7 separate regions of the Homo sapiens genome follow, and regions 2, 3, 4, 5, 6 and 7 are each reported to be linked to region 1. Evidence: microRNA targets listed by miRTarBase, many of them from high-throughput screens and not tested one by one. Region 1 holds a microRNA gene; each other region holds the end of a gene's coding sequence.

Region 1 (3,084 bases):
TGGGTGTTATAAAACCTTTTTTGGATTGAATTTAAGTACTGATAAAATTTTCCTTAGTTTTAAAATGAAAACCAGTATTTGTTACTCCCAAAGAATACGATAATTGTGTTTGCTGTTGCTGTTGCTTTCATTTTACATATTTAGAAGATTTATTTCCAATCTTTATCACCTTTATATCCATAAAGTATAACATTTTGTAAAAGATACCAAGCAAGGAGGTGGTATCCCTCCTTTTATTTTTAAAAAATCTTGCAAAGTCATACAAACTTAATTTTTATTAATACCATAACTTCCATCCTTTGTGTGGAATTGCAAGAATAGAATTTTAACCTATTAATATTTTACTCCAAACTATTAGTTTGCCTTTATCTGCGTCTGTATGTTCACTGTCTAGCCATCCATGATACACATGTGTGGACACTGAATATATAATATATTCACATGCCCATTTTAATTGGGCACAATTTTAAGATTAACTGTGGAGTTTGAAAGTTGGAGACATGGGGCATGCTGGGACTTCAGCTGAGATGTTCTGAGGTCAAGCACCAGGTACTGAGCTGTTCTTGTTACGCTCGTATACTACTGCGTGTTGCTCTCAAGGAATAGACCAGGCAGATGAGTTCCACAAGCCTCAGGCATCAATAACATGCATACATACACATAGCAGCCAACACGCTATTAAAGCAAAATATATACCTACTTTAACAGAAATCCAGGAGCTGCCACTCTCTGGTCACCTGATCCCATCTAACAATGAAAACCTCAGAGGTATACTCAATCACCTCAGACAAACTTTCTTTTCTTTTGTTTTTGCTTTAAAGAATAAAATTCCACCAAATTTCCAGGATGCAAAAGCACGACTCGCAGCTCCCAAGAGCCTAACCCGTGGATTTAAACGGTAAACATCACAAGTTAGGGTCTCAGGGACTGAGAGGAGCGCAACAATGTTTTCTTTCTTGAGACAAAGCAAAGCAAAACAAGAATGACAGGCAATTTCTGTTCGAGGTTCATAACTAAGATGCAACAAACAGGTGGTATGGTATTTCTTCTCTAAGCTCCTTTCCTTCACAAAATTGAGATTCCGTTTAAGCCTAATACATATATACACACATACGCAGTATCTGGGGGCGCATATACAATCACGCACATACACATACGATCACGAGTACATCAGAGAAAACTCTTTCAAGATTTGGGCAAAATAGTTCACTAAAACGGAAAATAATATGCACAGACTCAGAAATGCCCAAGTTTTTAAAACCATAGTCTACAATAAGGATTTAGTGTCTTTTCAAAGCTTTAATTTACGACTAGCACAAATGACTGAAGAGAAAATAGGAGGCATCTCTTTCCCCCAGGGCAAGTATGCCGCATGCAAAAATCATAGAAATCGGGTTTTCAAAGGAGAAGACCAAGAAGTAGGATTCGGAGGCTATAGAAGTGTAAAGACGAATAGCGTTCTGAACTCACCCATTCGAAGCGGAGCGGGGCCCGCACAGCCTCCTGTGGCACCATCCCGAGCAAGGGGGGAAAATGAGAGCTCTCAGTGCGCTAGGCTGGGCGAGGTGTTTCAATAGAGGACGGAGAACGGGGGCGGGGAGGGGAGGCGGGGGCAGGAAGCGATACACCAAATCTCGAGACTGTAACTCTGTAGCTTATGCTTTGACGAGAGAAAAAAGGGCAGTTGGGTGGGAGTGGAGGGAGGGGCTGGAACTGATCAAATTTGGAAAATATTCACTTAAAAATTAAAAAAAGGCGGGGGGGGGGGGGGAGTATGAAACCTCCCCAGAGCTGCTTTTTGAAAAATTTCTTCCTTCTTTCTTTAGCGTGCACTTTGCCAGTCCTGCAAACGGAGGCTTCGTCTGCATCAGCTGCTTGGCTGAAGTCAAGGCCAAATCACCAAGAGCGAGCACCAGGCTGTCATTTGGTAGACACGAAGTGGGAAGGGCTGGGTGCGGGCTGGGGAGAGACATTCCCCCCGCACCTCCCGCTGCGGATTCTTTGAAGCCTTTGGCCAATATTTCAGAGGAATCCGAAGCATAATTCCCCTCCATCTTCGCAGACAGCCCCTGGTTCTGTACCTGATAGATTGTCGCTTTCCTCATCAGACTGGAAGTGGGGCTTTCCTGTGCCGCCACCAAAAATGAAAGGAAAAGGAGGGGAGGCAGATGGGAAGATGACCCTTTTACAAATGTTTCTTCTCCTTTTTCTTTCTGTTTTTCATTTCATTTCTTTCTTCTTCTTGTTCTTCTTTTATTCCAGGCCTGAGCAAGGTAGATGGCTGGCTAGTCAAAGAGAATGACAAAGCAGCCACAGCCAGGAGGACACTGGAGAGGCCTCAACGCACTTAGTAAAAATGCTAAATATTTTTTTAGATATTTCCATATGCAACTAAAAACAGTTAGAGCTCTAGACTCTCCCCCTCCCCTCCTTTAAAAATGGAATCATACTAGCAACACAGCTAAATTATGTCTCTTCTCCCTCTGTACAGTGTCTGTTTAGCAGCCCCCCCACCCCCACCTTCAAGACAACTTTTTTCTCACCTCTGTGGGTTCTTCTCAGGCACAATCCTCCGTTGAGCTCAGAGGCTCTCCTTTTTCTCTCCCTTCCCTTTTCCTTTTCCTCTCAGAAAAGCTAGTCTGTCATCATCACACCTAGCTTCTCTCTCGCTCGCTCAACCTCTCTCCTTTTCTCTTTTACCATTAAAATATAATAATAATAATGGCCCTTTCGACATAGCAGCATGAAGTGGCTGCCTTTGAGAAGCACATTTAATCTTTACTGGCTCCCCTAGGCTTCAGTGAAGAAGGAGAAGGCAAGGAAAAAAAAAGGAGAGAGAGAAAAAAAGATTGTAAGGGAGGCTGCTGACGGACAGCAGGCATCAGGCACAAATCAGCGACAAGTTGAATTTTCCTAGACCACACTGCCCCCTTTCTTCTCGGCTTGCTCCCTGGGCTCCTGGAAAGCCTGAGTGTCTGGTTACAGGAGGCAACGGGTCTCTTTTTGCCAACCATGGTGCAGATTCCTCGCATGCCTGCTTAAATCTCTGGCAGAATAAGAAATCAATATCCCCCTCTAATCACC
Region 2 (3,084 bases), not on the chromosome of region 1:
TCTGTAGCCTCAAGGTTCACCTGAAAGGGAACTGCGCTGCGGCCCCGGCGCCTGGGCTGCCCTTGGAAGATCTGACCCGAATCAATGAAGAAATCGAGAAGTTTGACATCAGTGACAATGCTGACCGGCTCGAGGACGTGGAGGATGACATCAGTGTGATCTCTGTAGTGGAGAAGGAAATTCTGGCCGTGGTCAGAAAAGAGAAAGAAGAAACTGGCCTGAAAGTGTCTTTGCAAAGAAACATGGGGAATGGACTCCTCTCCTCAGGGTGCAGCCTTTATGAGTCATCAGATCTACCCCTCATGAAGTTGCCTCCCAGCAACCCACTACCTCTGGTACCTGTAAAGGTCAAACAAGAAACAGTTGAACCAATGGATCCTTAAGATTTTCAGAAAACACTTATTTTGTTTCTTAAGTTATGACTTGGTGAGTCAGGGTGCCTGTAGGAAGTGGCTTGTACATAATCCCAGCTCTGCAAAGCTCTCTCGACAGCAAATGGTTTCCCCTCACCTCTGGAATTAAAGAAGGAACTCCAAAGTTACTGAAATCTCAGGGCATGAACAAGGCAAAGGCCATATATATATATATATATATATCTGTATACATATTATATATACTTATTTACACCTGTGTCTATATATTTGCCCCTGTGTATTTTGAATATTTGTGTGGACATGTTTGCATAGCCTTCCCATTACTAAGACTATTACCTAGTCATAATTATTTTTTCAATGATAATCCTTCATAATTTATTATACAATTTATCATTCAGAAAGCAATAATTAAAAAAGTTTACAATGACTGGAAAGATTCCTTGTAATTTGAGTATAAATGTATTTTTGTCTTGTGGCCATTCTTTGTAGATAATTTCTGCACATCTGTATAAGTACCTAAGATTTAGTTAAACAAATATATGACTTCAGTCAACCTCTCTCTCTAATAATGGTTTGAAAATGAGGTTTGGGTAATTGCCAATGTTGGACAGTTGATGTGTTCATTCCTGGGATCCTATCATTTGAACAGCATTGTACATAACTTGGGGGTATGTGTGCAGGATTACCCAAGAATAACTTAAGTAGAAGAAACAAGAAAGGGAATCTTGTATATTTTTGTTGATAGTTCATGTTTTTCCCCCAGCCACAATTTTACCGGAAGGGTGACAGGAAGGCTTTACCAACCTGTCTCTCCCTCCAAAAGAGCAGAATCCTCCCACCGCCCTGCCCTCCCCACCGAGTCCTGTGGCCATTCAGAGCGGCCACATGACTTTTGCATCCATTGTATTATCAGAAAATGTGAAGAAGAAAAAAATGCCATGTTTTAAAACCACTGCGAAAATTTCCCCAAAGCATAGGTGGCTTTGTGTGTGTGCGATTTGGGGGCTTGAGTCTGGGTGGTGTTTTGTTGTTGGTTTTTGTTGCTTTTTTTTTTTTTTTTTTTTTAATGTCAAAATTGCACAAACATGGTGCTCTACCAGGAAGGATTCGAGGTAGATAGGCTCAGGCCACACTTTAAAAACAAACACACAAACAACAAAAAACGGGTATTCTAGTCATCTTGGGGTAAAAGCGGGTAATGAACATTCCTATCCCCAACACATCAATTGTATTTTTTCTGTAAAACTCAGATTTTCCTCAGTATTTGTGTTTTTACATTTTATGGTTAATTTAATGGAAGATGAAAGGGCATTGCAAAGTTGTTCAACAACAGTTACCTCATTGAGTGTGTCCAGTAGTGCAGGAAATGATGTCTTATCTAATGATTTGCTTCTCTAGAGGAGAAACCGAGTAAATGTGCTCCAGCAAGATAGACTTTGTGTTATTCTATCTTTTATTCTGCTAAGCCCAAAGATTACATGTTGGTGTTCAAAGTGTAGCAAAAAATGATGTATATTTATAAATCTATTTATACCACTATATCATATGTATATATATTTATAACCACTTAAATTGTGAGCCAAGCCATGTAAAAGATCTACTTTTTCTAAGGGCAAAAAAAAAAAAAAAAAAAAAAGAACACTCCTTTCTGAGACTTTGCTTAATACTTGGTGACCTCACAATCACGTCGGTATGATTGGGCACCCTTGCCTACTGTAAGAGACCCTAAAACCTTGGTGCAGTGGTGGGGACCACAAAACAACCAGGGAGGAAGAGATACATCATTTTTTAGTATTAAGGACCATCTAAGACAGCTCTATTTTTTTTTTGCCACTTTATGATTATGTGGTCACACCCAAGTCACAGAAATAAAAAACTGACTTTACCGCTGCAATTTTTCTGTTTTCCTCCTTACTAAATACTGATACATTACTCCAATCTATTTTATAATTATATTTGACATTTTGTTCACATCAACTAATGTTCACCTGTAGAAGAGAACAAATTTCGAATAATCCAGGGAAACCCAAGAGCCTTACTGGTCTTCTGTAACTTCCAAGACTGACAGCTTTTTATGTATCAGTGTTTGATAAACACAGTCCTTAACTGAAGGTAAACCAAAGCATCACGTTGACATTAGACCAAATACTTTTGATTCCCAACTACTCGTTTGTTCTTTTTCTCCTTTTGTGCTTTCCCATAGTGAGAATTTTTATAAAGACTTCTTGCTTCTCTCACCATCCATCCTTCTCTTTTCTGCCTCTTACATGTGAATGTTGAGCCCACAATCAACAGTGGTTTTATTTTTTCCTCTACTCAAAGTTAAAACTGACCAAAGTTACTGGCTTTTTACTTTGCTAGAACAACAAACTATCTTATGTTTACATACTGGTTTACAATGTTATTTATGTGCAAATTGTCAAAATGTAAATTAAATATAAATGTTCATGCTTTACCAAAATTTGTCTAGTGTCTTGAGTGAAGGGTCAGTGAGCGACATCTCCATACTGTACAGATGGCACCAGAACAAATTTTGAACACAATGCAATTTGTCTCTCCCCTGCCCCCACCCCTGTTCTTCTGCAGCACCCTCTGGGGTGCCCTGATCTCCCCCGGCTCCTTCCAGGAGTATATTTGTGCGTGATCTGACAGCATTGATTTGTCTCTCATAACTAAGATTTTTCTTTATGAACTATAAAAATGTTCTCTA
Region 3 (3,084 bases), not on the chromosome of region 1:
TTCTATAATTAATAATTAAATGAGTTGATGTGAGAGAATGTAACAGGACTTACTTTAAACTGAGTTGTCCAGGAAGATTCATTAAGGAGGTAAAATTTATGCTGAGACCTCAATGACAAGAGGGAGCCAAACATGCCCAGGGAAAGAGCCAGGGAAACAGACACAGAAAAAAACTAAGGTAAAGGACCTGAGATGGATCTGAGTGTGCCTTGTTCCAAAAACAGAGAAGACAGTGGGGTAGACTACAGTGCACAAAGTGAAAAATGGTACAAGAATTTTGAATATATATGAAGCTCGAGATGCCTGTTGGATACCCAAGAGGAGGTATCAAATAGGCAAGTGCCTCTCAAAGTTAATCTGCATATGAGTCACGTAAGGATCTTGTTTAAAATGCAAACTGTGATGCAATGGGTATGGAGTGAAGGCTCAGATTCTATTTCTCAAAAGGTCCCAGGGGATTATCCTGCTGGTCTTGGACCACATGTTGAGTTGCAAGAATGAAGGCAACTGTGCATTTGTGAGTCTGCAGTCAAACATAAGAAGGAAGAGGCCAAAAGATAAATAAGGTGGAGAAAATAAAACCAGAAAAGAAACTCTCTTAAACTATCAAAGGGATTTAGATGGTTTGTGTGGAGAAAGGATACCAAATACCTACAACAAGCTTTCTCATACTAAATGTGATTCAGTAGCATCAAGGTATTCATGGAAGTGACTCAGTACACTGATATGGATGCTATGTAACTGTGCTGTAGACTGTACTTGGAGTTTCTGACTACTTGCTCTGTCTTTCAAAGTCCATGGTTTTCATTTCAAAACAGCAATGCTTTCCCATCATCCCCTTAGTTGTTACTATGGGCAGTTTGTAACAAGAGATGCTTTTCCAAATATCTGAAATTAGGAACAGCATAGCATTGTAAGAGATAGGAAGTCAGTCTCCTCAGAATATGGGGTACGTATCCAGTTGTACACGCTAATTGCAGGTGTCCCATTACTGCCAGTGTGCAGGGTCATGTGCTTCGTGAAGAGAGATGCACAGGGAGATGTAACTGAAAAAGATTCATAACCAGCTTTGATTTTTGTCTGCTCCCTGCATTTCCCCCAACCCACAAACATTAAGCCCAAAACAGAGAATTGCTCTCAGTATTCCTGCTCCAGAACCATGCAACATAATCAGTACTTCTTACTTTCTTGAATTTATTTTTATTTCAATGGTTTTAATGAATATTTCCTAGAAAGTTCACAATACTCATTTTTATGTTTCAATTTATATTCAAATTTACTCAAAGATAATATCACCCGGTATTATTAGAGAAGTCTCTCTAAATACTAGAACTGACATTTCAGATCCATTTGTAATAATACTGCCCCCATAAAATATGCATAGGTTACAGAAGTTTATCTTGAATAGTCCTCCTGCTCCTCATCCCTGACTTTGATATATTACATCTTGCAATTTCTGGCAATCAATTCTAAGACAATAGACAAAATTTCAGCCACTTCAACTTCTAAAATAACCACTAAAAAATACACCAAAAAATAATGTGGGTAAGCAAAGCACCATGAATAAAAGGAAAATGGGTATTTCATTAACCTAAAATTATCTTAATATTCTTAGGATCACAATATTTCCTTGGGCAATTTGAAAGTGATCTGAAAATTATAAAGGTAGATTATGATACATGTATCAACCTATTCTTATCACTGCAATTTAGACATCAGGACAAAAAAAAATAGCTTACAATTTCTCAATAGTTGAGTAACACCATGCTGGTTTTTACTATAACTGATGACAGGTAAAGTGTGGTAAACTGGATGCATGTAACAAACATGGGAGGTCGTAATATGTTTCCAGGATATGGCATCTTGCCATTGGCCACAGCCTCTTGGAACCAGATAAAGTCACTGAAATAGTTAACAGATGTTAGCCATACTTGAAATATAAAAGTTCTATTGCTAAAATTATGTAGGGTCAGATGGAGATTTGGCTTTTGGTCCATAACATAACTGACTTGGCAAATGAGTAGTTGAGATCCAGAGGCATAATGTATAATATTGAGGCCACACACTCTGCATACTATGCAGGAGCTCATAAACTACTGACAATATGTACACAGTGTTAAGCCTGCTTGATTAAGTATTAACACAGTATTTGATACTTGGGGAAATACGAAGTCAATTTTCCCATCTACTAAATTAAAAAGTTATTTCTATGAGAGCAAAAGAAACTTTTTTCCAAGTTCAAAATTATGACAAGTTTTATTATTTATCCTCAGCTTGCAATTTACCTGATGACTGATATTGCATTTTGTTGACTTAATCTATCCAGTTATAATCTTTTTGAAAAGGATCTCTTTTTTCCCACTCTTGTCCATTACTTCACATATCAGAGCAAGTTGGCATTAATGATTTTCAGATGAGTATTGTAGCTGAAATTGATCTTCTCAACGGTACGTCATAAATCCATTCAAGTCAAGCATTGAAGGAGGCTTGTGCTACTTTAGAGTTTGTGGTTTTATTCACAGCTTTGCAAATAAAGTCACCAGCTTCCATCACTTTGTATAGATTCACACCCTGGTGACGAAATGAAGGAATATCAGGAAGGCAGAGGGATTAGAGAGAAAAAAGATAAAACATAGCCTTTTAAATTTTATTAGTAGTTACTTAACCATTTAAAATTACTAAACAAAGTGGTGTTGGTCATTATCAATTTTGGGGCAACATTTGTTTCCATGAATAATGTTGTTAACATTTTAGATTTGTCTGCTTTATTACAGCATATCTTTAATCTGACCCTTGTATAATAATATAGGTAGACACACTTGAAAAACATCATAATTCAGGCTGGTATCTAGAGTCTAGGAAGGACAATAATGGAACTAGAAAAGCAGTCAACAAAGCATCAGCGAAGGACAATCAAAATAATGTTTTGGAGCAGTTTATAGATAAGAACTGACTTAGAAAAAAAACTATCCTCTTTACTATATAAAGAAACAAACTTGAAAAAGCCATAAGGATTACAGAAAAGGTGTATGCATATATATACATATATATTTTTTAAACCAAGGCCAGAAATACTATTACTAG
Region 4 (3,084 bases), not on the chromosome of region 1:
ACCCTATCGTGCTAGGGCACTATGCAATATACAGCTATTTCATTTTCCTTTTGTCTCTGTTTCCCAGGTGGTCTTCGAGGGATAGCACGAGGTGGTCTGACAGGACTAACACTTACCAGCCTCTATGCACTATATAATAACTGGGAGCACATGAAAGGCTCCTTGCTCCAACAGTCACTCTGAAGATTTTGCCAACTCATGAATGGAGGACACTTCAGTAGTCATCTAGATCCTTTTATAAGACAGTTTGGAGTTATTCTCTCTCTTCTACCTACAATTAGTTTGAAAAATTGGAGATTTTGATTTGCTGTGATGAAAATCCTGGATGGCTGACCAAGACTGGCACTTGTTCCAGCCATTAGTGAGTTGAAGCCAAAGCCCTTTGGTGACTCACTGAGTACCATGGTTCTGTTCTCCTCTGGAGATCTTGCACGTATCTGTTTTCCTCCCCCATGAACTAGAAAACCACTTACTCCCAGAATTCAGGTCGTGCTTGTTAGTACTATATCACCAAGTCCATTCATTTAATGATCCAAAACTGTAATGTTGCACTGTATTCCAAATAAAGGGTAAAAACAGAACCAAAGTTATAACTCCAACACACAAACATAGTGGTTGTCTCAATTTAAAAGTATCTACCTGGGTATAAAGTGAAAGGTACCCTTGGCATTTTTTGTCCCAGTGGGCAAAACAACATCTTCGTGTTTGTGTTAAAATGAGCTACTTGGTGGCCGGGTGTGGTGGCTCACGCCTGTAATCCCTGTACTTTGGGAGGCCAAGGCAGGTGGATCACCTGAGGTCAGGAGTTTGAAAATCAGCCTGGCCAATATGGTGAAACCTTGTCTCTACTAAAAATACAAAAATCAGCTGGGTGTGGTGGGTGTGCACCTGTAACCCCAGCTACTCAGGAGGTTGAGGCTGGAGAATCGCTTGAACCCAGGAGGCGGAGGTTGCAGTGAGCCCAGATCATGCCACTGCACTCCAGCCCAGGTGACAGAGTGAGACTCCATTTCAAAAAAAGAAATGAGCTACTGGTGGCATTCACCAATAGAGCTGGTACTAAACCACCTCAAGGTATTTCAGGTCAGCCGTTAGACTAGTATGCTAGAACAATCTTTCCAACAATCCTGCTTCATTCCATACATATTAACTCACACCTTACTAGGAATAATTAAGAGCTAGGTTTTTTTTTTTTTTTTTTTTGAGACAGGGTCTCTGTTCCCCAGGCTGGAGTGCGGTGGTACAATCTCAGCGCACTGCTGAGATTACTTGAACACCTCCCGGGTTCAAGTAATTCTGCCTCAGTCTCCCAAGTAGCTGGGATTACAGGCACTTGCCACCATGCCCAGCTAATTTTTGTATTTTTAGTAGAGGCGGGGTTTACTATGTTGGTCAGGGTGGTCTCGAACTCCTGACCTCAGGTGATCCACCTGCCTTAGCCTCCCAGAGTGCTGGGATTACAGGCGTGAGCGACCGTGCCTGGCCAAGAGCTAGATGTTTTTCAAGGAAGCCTTGGGAAAACTAAAGGACATGAGGCCAAATTGTTTAATTTCTGAGTTTGTTTTCTCATCCACCATATGAAGTTAATCATGTATAATTGCACTACAGGTTATACACATAAATATTACTGTATTAAATACCTGGTGGCTATATGATTGGAGAAAGTAAACTAGGGCCTCTTCGGATGCATCTAGTAAGAGGAATCCAGTAGAAAGGCACTGAATCTTGGCTGAAGTCCCATAGGTTTTTTTTTAATAGATGTGAATAGTTTTTATAAAAGACTGAAAATGGAGGTTAATATACCTATTGTTTGCTAATTTTTCATAAAATACACTGATGTTATTTTTATGTTCAAGCTGTTTCTCAGCTGGATTACTAACCAAAAGTTACCACGTTATGTGGTACCACACCACACTTTGTGACAAATAGTTTTAAAAATAACACGCAACAACTATGGCTGTTATGCTTTTAATGGAAGCAGATACAAAATTCATCAATGCAAAAGAATGTTTTACATACTCATTAACATAGTGATTAATGTAAATTATATTTTGACTTGTAAAATACAGTGTGTTTGGCCTCAAGAAACTACAGAGCTGCAACTCAAGATAACTGGAAAGGCTCCTTACATTGTTTTTGCCCACCACCTTTATATAATACTCCTAAATGATATCTGGGGAGGGAATTAAAAAATAATACAAAGCTCTTTTCAGCTGTGGTTCAAAGAACTCTAGTGAAGCTGTATGGCAATGACATTTTGGGACCATGAAGTTTCCCCAGAAGTATTTCCGGTAAGAGGCAGTTAAGAAGCTTAATAGTTTCAAAGTCTGGAAAGCAGCAAAGATATCTTAGAGAAAACATTATAAACCCCACTTCTCTCCTACACAGACATTTTAAAGCATGGACGTAACTTTAAGGAGACTGAGAAAACATCAGTAGTTTTCACAAAGCTTCAATGAACACCCCAAGGCACAAGTGTTGAAAACGGCCTGTTCACTAAAACGTCACTTTTGGAGGTACAGGTATGCTGTGCTTGCAGTGAGAGGATGACTTTATCCCTACTTAAAAGCACCAGGTGTCAAGCTCAGCTTCCATTTACACAGGATGCACCAATTATCCCTATGATAGTGACTGTTTCAAGTACTATACTACATTTCCAACATGTCTTTTGCCTATTTGCTTAGTCGGTACTGGGGTTCTTTTAAGCCCCGTAGGTCTGTAGAATATTTTAAAAGGCTAGAATTACCTCAAAAATAGTCTTGAAATAATACTGAGTCCTTCTAAAGAGCTCACTGGATATTTTAATAACATTTACAGAAAGACAAAATTTGCAGTAGCTGAGTTTAAGTGAAGAATAATGTAGAACTAACGTGGGCTAAAATGTTTCATAATTAATGTCAAAAATTGCCAAGATTATTAATATATATTTTGGTAATCACTATTGACCAGGTTAATTTTTTTGTGCAAAATACACTATGTATTAATAGAACAGGAAAATAATTATTTCAGACCACTAACAAAAGAAAACCCACAGCAAGAGAAGCATCTGTAGGGCAATTAAACGTTAGGGAAGTTTACTAGCTT
Region 5 (3,084 bases), not on the chromosome of region 1:
TTAGTGGACTTTGGTAAAGCCCTTCATACATATTAATCTCTTCACAGTACACATTTAATGATGGTCCAGTATTCTCAAAAAAAAAAAAAAAAGCCTACTTTAAAGACTAATCAATAAATTAAACAAAACAAAACCCACACAATGTTCCCCCACCCCCCAAAGCTAGCAGTTGTGAGTTGTATTTATATTGAAACCTAATGTTTTAAAAATAGTTCTGGTTCTCCAACCACCCCATCCCACCCCGGGTATGCAGCAATAGTAATCAATTATTTTATTCTACCCTCCCAAAAGATTATTAATCCAGTGTTCTTTAGCTTTTTAAAATATAAATTGGGAAAGTGTTATTAATAAGCTTTTTTAAAAGGCATATTCTTCTATAACAAGAATGGCATATAAACCAATCAATAAAAGTATTTGACAAGACATTAAGTTACCACAGGCACTGGCTGTTGTTTCAAGTTGGGATCTCTATCCCAATATCTTACATTCATAGCATTATTGAGGTAGTTAAAATACTGAAAATTGGACTCCAGGTTGCTGGGTTCTGAATGTGAATGTGAAAGATATATTCTCTTTTGAGCCTACTTTCCCCCAAATAATTCAAGTTTTCTTGAGGTAAGAACTACCAAAATCCAATTAGCAGCCTTCTTTAAAAAGGAAAAGTGATGATACTTTCAGAAAACAATTTTCATGCTTAAAAACTGCCATGAGTGAGTGTTCTTACCTGAGTGGTTTTTCATTTTATCTACCAGACTAATAAATCCACATCATGCCCTATGTACTCTAAATATAAAAGTTATTTTCTTTTTAAGGAAAGGATATTTCTCTAAGCATTGATACTGACAGAAGCTACCCACCCACATTCATCCCCGGGAGCCATCTGGATCAGTCCATCACTGTGTTGAGCCCCTTCCCTTCCTGACAAAGGCCATTGGCTTGATTACTGAGACTCCTGCTGCATACCCACAACATCTTTATAGTAAGTTTGTCTTCGATGCATATTGTGGCAGTCACGTATCTGCCATGCAGTTTTCCCTTCTATTCAAGTGCTATCTTAAAAAAAACAAAAAGACACACCTTACTAATTTTTAAACCAGAAAGCTTCCCTCCACCAAATCTTTCTTCTCCCACAGAAAGGAGCACAATGTATACAGTTTATCAGTTATTACAATGACTTTTTAACTTTTTAAGGTTATTCCTCCAAAATGCTTTACCCCCAAACTGCCCTTGCTGTAATGACAATTATTGCTGTTTGCAGTTAATACTGGTACAGTGAAATGTCCCAGGGCAGTTGTAGGGTCAATCCAATGAAAGTAGCTACTGAAATTTAGTCATCAGTTACCTTTGCCTGCTTAGACTGACTAGAGCTGGATTCAAAGGTTGCTTAAAAAACCTGTCTTCCACATAACAAAGTGCTGCTCTAGCACAACCTGAGAACTACCCTGGCCACAGTCCCTTCCAAAATAAACCTACAGGACTTTATTCTAGCACTGACCTCTTACAGTTATGCCATCCCTTGAAATAACTTTTTAAGAATGTCGATTCTGAGTATAAATCATGGATTGCACTGAGATATGCAAAACCTACATATGTATTATGAATCACAGGAACTACCACTTCATTCTGAGCTATATTATGTTCTCATTTGAAAACACACCCTAGCAAGCGTATTTTAACCTATGTTATAAAGGTAGTTCACACTATAACATTCCCAAGGCATGTTGCATTACAGTTAAGTGTTTCCAAGTAGTACAAATTCCCTGAGTTAAATGTATTTTAATTCTAAAAATTTGATGTTGATCACTTAGGGAAAAAAAGAAAAATTATGACCATGATTTAAAAAATAAGATCTTCTCCACCCTTAATTTTAGTATATAAACCCAGATACCTACACTATTTGTGAGACGAAGTTATATAGAATCATCTAAAAAAATTTTTTTTACTGCAGATTGGTATAGCATAACAATTCATGAGTTTAAACTTAGTCAAAAATTCATGTGTAGAACAAAAATAAAAAATTGCAGAATAAAAAAAACCTTTTCAAAAATTAATACTGTAACTTTCCTTCATAAAAGACTGTTTGGCAAGTCCATAGATGAGATAAACATTTAGTCTTTGACTTAGAAGCCAACATTAGGCCCAGATGCTACCACAGGTCAAATCTCAAAATGGCAAATTGAAGTCTGTCCAAATTTTCTGTTGTACTGAATATTTTTGAAATATTTGGACCATCAGCCAGGACTTGAACATTTTTGTCATACAGGGATTTGTTGTAACAGAATTTGACATACTGTTAATTTGCTTAGTCTCCCAGGATTCATGGTGCATTAAAAAGGATATTCAGTCTTCCTGGTGCTGGTACCTGAAGAGTTCTGATGTCATTTAGATCCCTTTCCTTTTGAACAGAAGTTTACAAAACGCTTACCCATAGCTTCATGTCACAAAGCAGTCTGGGTCGGTTATCAGCTTCACAAATAATCACCTTTCAAAACATGGAGTAATACAAGGGTAATGTTCATTTATCTGATAACTCCGGTTGTAAGAAACACTCAGACAGGGCTTAACTTCTACTGGTATTGCCAGTGACATCCCAACACCAGTCTGCATGTGCCCAAGGCCCTGAACACTAGTTTGGAAGCCAGCAGGACATGTCTGTAGTGTGTAAGATGAGGTGTGTGTGGTCGATACAATCTGCTGACAGCTTGGTTGTTCTGACGTAGGATGGCGATACTGCAGTGAGGTCTGATGTGTCTGATGGAGATACTGAGGTTGCTGAAAGTGAACTGGCCGTGATGGCTGGGAGGCTGTCTGGAATACACTTAGTTGCGCTGACTGAGGTCCTGCTTGCCCTCTCTGTTTGTTTGCTTCTTTCACATCATTATCATGAGCGCTGAAACGTGGAGAGAAAGGAAACTATTAAAAATACTGCTTGAGAAGAAATCTGCAAGAAAATCATGCCCCATCCCCAACTCAACAGCTTCTTCCACCACCACTACCCAGGTAGCAGTCACTGCACCATAATTCCAACAACAGTGAGACCTCGCTTGTGTTCTTCTAAAGCTATTTCCCTTGATGTGAACCTTC
Region 6 (3,084 bases), not on the chromosome of region 1:
GGGGAATTTTGTAAAAGCAGTCTGTATCAGTTTAAAGATGTGAATAATACAAGTATATTCTTGTACTTATAACAGGAACGAAGAGTGGAGAAGAAAGCTAACAAATTAGCATTTAAACTGGAGAAAAGAAGGCAAGAAAAAGAGCTGCTGAACTTGAAGAAGAATGTTGAGGGTCTAAAGCTATAGACAGTGGAGCATACAGGGCAAGGCACTTTATTAGGGGCTCCTCATCTTTGGTTATTGACTAGAAACTTCAGAAAGACAAAACTGTTTGCCATTTTTACTGGCAGATAAGAGGAAAATACAATATTTGTATTATTTTTATACTAGTAAGTGTCCCCTGCCAACCATCTTGTAAATATTGTAATACTTTAATTTTTAATATTATAAGCTTACATTTGCTCTGAAGTAAATGACTTCATGAATGTGAAATGTTTGATAAATTAAAGGAAAATATCTTCATAACGTGAATGGAATTGGTGTATTCATTTATTTGTATGGTTGTCATAGTTGTTTTTTGCAGATGTTTTCAAATATTTCTTTGAATCCTCTCCACGCCTTTTCAGGAATTACATGGTTTAATTTGCTGTAAATAGAAAAGTGGCCTGGTTAAACTCAATTTTGAAATGCTGACTTTATTCTGTTTAGTGTAAGATGAGTTTTTCTGAGAAGGTTCCACTGTTAGGAAGCTAAGTTTTCCCTTGCTGTATACAAAGGACTGTTTCAAAAGTGTGGCAAAACTGAATATTAAGGTTCTTAAGATTCATATTTCCTGTTATATTACTGGATGACTTGCTTTTGGGATTTAGGAACAGTGAAGGCAGGAAACAGAATAGTCAAGGAAATAAGAAAACTTATTTGGCTTCAGTGAGTCCCTAGTTCAAAATCAGAAATATTTATTTCAGTTTAAACTGGGGAGTTTGTCTTTTCAACATCAGTTAATGCTTGGAACCATTCATACTTGATTAAAATACATCGTTGAAAACTTTCCCTGTTTTTGATGAGTTGATTTTTGTTTTAACTGATTTAAACTTTTTCAAGGTTTAGGCAATGACATCATCACAATTGTTGATTATTTGGTAAACTATGACTTCTTGCAACAGATTAGTGGTCCTGGTTTATGTTCTTGACTAGTATGATGTTATCTGGACTGGGCTGTAAAAATCTGTGAACACTGTTGCTCTGAGTTAGGAACAGAATGGCTGGGGCAGAACCATTTTTGGCAGGTGAGCTGCACTTGATATCTAAATTATTAGAAAATGCCTTCATCTGTAATCATTCATTTATGGCTTTTCCAAAGCTGGTAGGTATTAGCTTGTTCTACCATGTGTGATCCGTTTAAATCTAAGTATTGTAGGATTTTTAAAGAGTTGTCAAAACTGATGGCATTAGGTATTCTACCAACATTGGCTAGAAAAAAATCTTGACTGAAGAGCTTGTCATTGCAGAAGTAGGATACTGGAGAGAATGTATTTAAATGCCAACCTGTGAAGTAAAGGGTCAGATGATGGTTTATGTCAATATTGAGAATGTAAGTACTAAAAGGATTGGCCATTTATTTTGATAGCTGTCTCAACTGAAGATTCTCAAAAACAGCAAGAGTCTTAATAGGCATTGGATGTTTCTTTGTCATGTTACTCAAATTCTGTGTTATGAGGTGCTAACTTCACTGTGTTTAAATCCATATATTATATATTTTGCAATTAAGAGAAAAAGACTAGGCCATGAGTCTTGATGAAGCATATTGTGATTTAGGCAGGTTATACTCCAAACTTAAATATTTTAATTTTATTCTGAAGAACAAATTCATGATACTTTAAATGAATTTTCTGATATCTTGGTTCTCTAAAAATCTATAAATGATGATTGGGAACTGAACATAAAAGCTCCATGCTAAATGTTGGGAGCCCAAGAGATCAGAGGGTTTTTGCCTTCAGGAGCCACATGGTCTGAGGAGGCAGGATAGGTGCAGCGAAATGTAACTGGCAATACTATCGTGGTAAGTACCACTTGTAATTAGAATCTTGGTACTTGCTGTTCCCCCAGAAGTGCTTTCACTGCAGACAGACCTTCCTCATGGTTGGTGCTCAGCTGTAACCTTCACTATAGGCTATTCCCTGAGCTTGTATTTAAAAATCCTGCACGCATCCCTCCCCTGCATCCTTGACCCTCCTTCCCTGGTTTATGTTCTCCACAACATCTGTTGACGCAGAGGACTGTTTTTCAGTCTCCTCTCGCAGGACAAACCCTGAAGGCACAGTGTTTTATTTATTGCTTTATCCTTAGGTCTGGAAGGGTGCCTGGCATTCAGTATACAGTCACAAAGTAGTGTATGAATGAATGGATAGATGGGAAAGATTTCAGAAAAGAATTAAACATAGAACCATAGCAGGGCCTAGAATCACTGGGGTTAGGGAGGAGAGAAAGGCCTAAGAGATCCAGGCAGGGGGCAAAATCTTGAAGAATTTGTATCTTAAACTTTTTTTTTTTGCCAAGACAGGTCTTGCTCTGGCGCCCGAGCTGGAGCGCAGTAGTGCGATCTCATCTCACTGCAACCTCCAACTCCCGGGTTCAGGCGATTCCCCTGCCTCAGCCTCCCGAGTAGCTGGGATTACAGGTGTGCACCACCATGCCCAGCTAATTTTTGTATTCTTAGTAGAGACAGGGTTTCGCCATGTTGGCCAGGCTGGTCTCAAAACTCTTGACCTTATGATCCGCCCGCCTCGGCCTCCCAAAGTGCTGGGATTACAGGCATGAGCCGCCAACACCCGGCCCACCTATTTTGTTTAAGCACTGCCCGTGAATGGTGTAAAACCACTTGGATATCATAGTACCACAGATGCTCCTTGACTCGTGGTGGGATTATGCCCTGATAAGCCCACCATAAGCTGAAAACATGGTAAGCCAAAAATGCATTTACTACACCTAACCTACTGAACATCATAGCTCAGCCTAGCCTACCTTAAACTTGCTCAGAATACTTTCCATTAGCCCACAGTTGTGCAAAACCATCTGGCAATACAGCACGCTGTAGAGTTATCAATTTGCCCTCGTGATCACATGGCTGACTGGGAGCAGTGGCTC
Region 7 (3,084 bases), not on the chromosome of region 1:
TTATCAATCATTGCAAGGTAACTTCAATGTCATTAAGTATTAACATTCTAAATATGTAAAGCTATAGAAGGAAGGTCCTGCCTATTCTCTTTGCCCCTCTCAAATCATTCTAGTCTGGTTTACCAAACAGAACCACCAGCTAGGAGGATAAAAATACATTCCCATGTTCACTAGCCATTAAATGAACATAGCCACTTGTGCAGGAAGCCTAACATTTTTAGGATTTCCTAACTTTTTAAAACTTAAGGATAAGTCCATTTCTACAAGCTAATTTTACAGCTCCTTAATATTCTTAATCTGGACAGTTAATTTTGCAGACTTTGTTGGTGTCTGCCTTTTCAATTGTTTTACCCAAAAAGAGGCCTTGAAAAAACTTTCAAATTCAGGAAACCCCTAAACCCCTGCAGAGAACCCTCATGGTATGTGAGTGTGAGCACTAAGTTGAAGAATACTCTTATTTCACAGAAATCTAGGACTGTCAGACTAGGGCTGAGTTCATTCTCTTCCTTCAGAGACAAAATTTCAAGCTGAGCAGATTCAGAGACAAGGGTTCCTCATAGGTTATATACTAGTGCTGGGAAAAGGAGAGAAAATGCTATTTCATTGGGTCTTGTGGTTCCTCCAGCCGGGTTAGAACAAGATTTGAGAGTTGCACCCTTTATTTTCAAGGCCAAGTGGCTGCAGAAACATTTCAAGAATTCCTCTGGCAAGGTGGCAAGTCAGTTTCCTTTTAGATCTAAGAGTCTTGTCGCTTTAAGAAAAATTTTTTTCCCCAGAACCTTTCAGAGACTTGTCCATTTGTTCATGTGATGAAAAACGTCTGCAAAATAGGCTACTTTCTGTAGTCATTTTTCATTTCCAAAGCACTCAGCAAAAGCTGGCTGTTTTATTGTAAGTACTCTGGCAATTCACCTTTCAATTCAAATATCCTGTAGAGAACGCTTCCTCTGAGAAGCCACTGGATGTCTGTATGGTGCAGGAGGTTTATGTGCTGTCTGTCCAGGTTTTTGTTTTGGGTGTTTTTTTTTTTTTTTAACATTTTTGCATAAATGGGTCTTTGATACAGGTAACCAGTTTTGTAACATTATTCAGAACTTCACTGTATCTTCAAGTTTTTGATATCAGCATCTCTGTGGAGAAAGCAGTGTGCTATAATGTCAACATCAGGATTTCTTTTTTTTTTTTTAATAACGCAAAATGACTTATGGAGACAACCACTGATGGGGCACCAGGAGTGTAGATACCAGACCTCTGGTTATCAGATATGATGTCACAACATTATATATTGGCCTTTGTTCTGGCAGGCTCCTAGCAATAGAAAAAGTTTTCTTTGAATTTCATCATTTACAAATCTTACAAATGCTACAGCATGACAAATATTAGTGAAACCTGTTGACTCATCATCCTGGATAGAGAAGCTGCTACTTTTCAGTTAATGACACAAAACCTTTTTTGCATCATATGACATATCATCAGTAAATCAACTTATTGAGAATAAAGTCTCTTCAACTTTGTACTGCATCTTGCCCCAGCATTTTAATGTTATTAGATTCTCACCAACCATGCATATTTTCCTTTCCTGAGATAAGTTCTGCTACTAAATAATTTGCTTCTTAAACCTTTTGACTAAAGGTGATTTCTGAACAAAAGCCTTACTGTTTTTGATAGTCCAAAAGCCATTTGAAAATAATGAATATCCTTTCTTGTCAAGTGGCTGTGATTTATTGTTACAATTGCTAGTTTTGTAAGTTGCATGTCACAGACAATGCACAATGGGACAGGAGAGCTTGGACTGAGTCCACATAATACCCTTGAGAAGTAGCTTTCTTTATTAAGACAGAATTTCTTTGTGTCCCTTGTTGCACTAGTATACTGAAGTATACTCAGAAGACTGAAGTTCTTCATCACCAACCTTTTCAGAAATGTCTGTAGTTCTATGCCTAAAATGGTTCTCGTCTCTCTCACATCTTGCCTTCCAAAATTGCGACACTGGACTGTCAGCTATATTACACACAAATGTTAAAAAAAAAAAAAAAAAACAGACATAAACAAGAAAATCACAAAAGTACAAAAACTTCACTAAACAATTCACTTCTAACCTACATGATCCACATTTTTGCAATGTTTACAACAAAGTGGCAGGCAGACAGCTGAGCTGTGGCATGTAAAAACTCCTTCCTTAGAATGAAAACTTCCCTCTGATTTTCTACTTCACAGGTAGTTCACTCCCTTAAGTCAGCTGGCACTGCAGAAGAGGAGCCTGGGAGAGGCCAACATCCCCCTCCTATCCTCCCCTCTTTGCAACAGCAGCACATGGGTCTGCCTCTACGTAATACCATAAAGGCTGAAAGATCCCTAAAAAAACTGTTAACAGGGCTGCGCAATCATTGCTCACTACTGTGAGAACAGCATAATGCAGCACACAAATAAAAAACTGTTTTTAGTCACAATTTAAGGTGGAGCCCCAGCAACATCTCGTAGAGCCCCAGGTGAGAAACCCACCTCCAACACCAAATGACTTCCTATGAGAAGTCATTTTCATTTGACTTGGATCCTTCTGTGGCTTGACTTGCAAGTTCAGGTTTGGCTCCTCCCTCATTTACCACCTGTGGATTAGACGTTGGTTTTGTCTGCCCCAGCTCCTCAGTATTCTCTGGTACCTGCTGGTTATTTTTTCCTTCTGCTGTGTTGTTTTGGTCTGATTTGTCCGCAGATTCCAGTTTAGCTTCTTTCCCATTTCCCTGCTTTGAGTTAAGCTGTGACGGATCCTTAGGGCTCTTCACCACCTCCTGGAGATTGTATTTTCTAAACAACATGTAATCTTTCACAACACTCAGGCAACAGACAGCTTTGATGATTTCTACTACCACTGTGTACTGTGGATTGGTGAGATCCACTTTATTTTCTGAATTGAGGGTGCACACTATTCCTGTAACAAAAACAGAAAAACACATAGCTGAGGAGGATACCATTACATCTGATAGATACAAAAAATCTTTTGTCTCTGTTTCTTGTTAAAACAAGACATACAGTAATCCACTCTTCTATGTGGACTTCAAATAATCTGAACCCTTACAATAAATA

Evidence for each region. The annotated mature microRNA hsa-miR-125b-5p reads UCCCUGAGACCCUAACUUGUGA and lies in region 1 at 906-927, opposite strand. An mRNA with a match to its seed (bases 2 to 7 or 8) in the 3' UTR can be bound and repressed. Matches are read on the target gene's strand: a 7mer-m8 pairs with bases 2 to 8, a 7mer-A1 pairs with bases 2 to 7 and ends in A, and an 8mer does both.
Region 2: the mRNA of PRDM1 is a reported target of hsa-miR-125b-5p. Seed matches in the 3' UTR shown: 7mer-m8 at 549-555.
Region 3: the mRNA of HMGCLL1 is a reported target of hsa-miR-125b-5p. Seed matches in the 3' UTR shown: 7mer-A1 at 1,424-1,430.
Region 4: miRTarBase lists TIMM23 as a target of hsa-miR-125b-5p. The part of its 3' UTR that is shown has no 7-base or 8-base seed match.
Region 5: the mRNA of CCNJ is a reported target of hsa-miR-125b-5p. Seed matches in the 3' UTR shown: 8mer at 1,758-1,765.
Region 6: the mRNA of LTV1 is a reported target of hsa-miR-125b-5p. The part of its 3' UTR that is shown has no 7-base or 8-base seed match.
Region 7: miRTarBase lists THUMPD1 as a target of hsa-miR-125b-5p. The part of its 3' UTR that is shown has no 7-base or 8-base seed match.

Annotation. Positions count from the first base shown.
Region 1 is chr11:122,098,904-122,101,987 of GRCh38, forward strand. It overlaps MIR125B1 (microRNA 125b-1), which reads right to left and starts at 941; the gene lies at 854-941. The region is part of intron 4 of MIR100HG (mir-100-let-7a-2-mir-125b-1 cluster host gene); the gene reads right to left.
Region 2 is chr6:106,107,104-106,110,187 of GRCh38, forward strand. It overlaps PRDM1 (PR/SET domain 1), which reads left to right. Exons shown (of 7, transcript NM_001198.4): 7 at 1-2,835. The coding sequence ends at 383. Among named protein-coding and RNA genes, the nearest start is that of PRDM1, 22 kb to the left of the region's middle.
Region 3 is chr6:55,433,193-55,436,276 of GRCh38, forward strand. HMGCLL1 (3-hydroxy-3-methylglutaryl-CoA lyase like 1) reads right to left here. Exons shown (of 9, transcript NM_001042406.2): 9 at 1,181-2,571. The coding sequence ends at 2,470. Among named protein-coding and RNA genes, the nearest start is that of GFRAL, 110 kb to the left of the region's middle.
Region 4 is chr10:46,003,136-46,006,219 of GRCh38, forward strand. It overlaps TIMM23 (translocase of inner mitochondrial membrane 23), which reads left to right. Exons shown (of 7, transcript NM_006327.4): 7 at 68-607. The coding sequence ends at 183. NCOA4 (nuclear receptor coactivator 4) reads right to left here. Exons shown (of 10, transcript NM_001145263.2): 10 at 1,953-3,084. Among named protein-coding and RNA genes, the nearest start is that of SNORA74C-1, 20 kb to the left of the region's middle.
Region 5 is chr10:96,057,636-96,060,719 of GRCh38, reverse strand. CCNJ (cyclin J) reads right to left here. Exons shown (of 6, transcript NM_001134375.2): 6 at 1-2,890. The coding sequence ends at 2,479. The region is part of intron 2 of ENTPD1-AS1 (ENTPD1 antisense RNA 1); the gene reads left to right. Among named protein-coding and RNA genes, the nearest start is that of MIR3157, 5.2 kb to the left of the region's middle.
Region 6 is chr6:143,863,342-143,866,425 of GRCh38, forward strand. LTV1 (LTV1 ribosome biogenesis factor) reads left to right here. Exons shown (of 11, transcript NM_032860.5): 11 at 76-471. The coding sequence ends at 186. It overlaps ZC2HC1B (zinc finger C2HC-type containing 1B), which reads left to right and starts at 1,133. Exons shown (of 8, transcript NM_001013623.3): 1 at 1,133-1,226. The coding sequence starts at 1,199.
Region 7 is chr16:20,734,358-20,737,441 of GRCh38, forward strand. THUMPD1 (THUMP domain 1 NAT10 acetyltransferase adaptor) reads right to left here. Exons shown (of 4, transcript NM_017736.5): 4 at 1-2,929. The coding sequence ends at 2,523. It also overlaps a transcript of ACSM3 not described here. Among named protein-coding and RNA genes, the nearest start is that of THUMPD1, 5.9 kb to the right of the region's middle.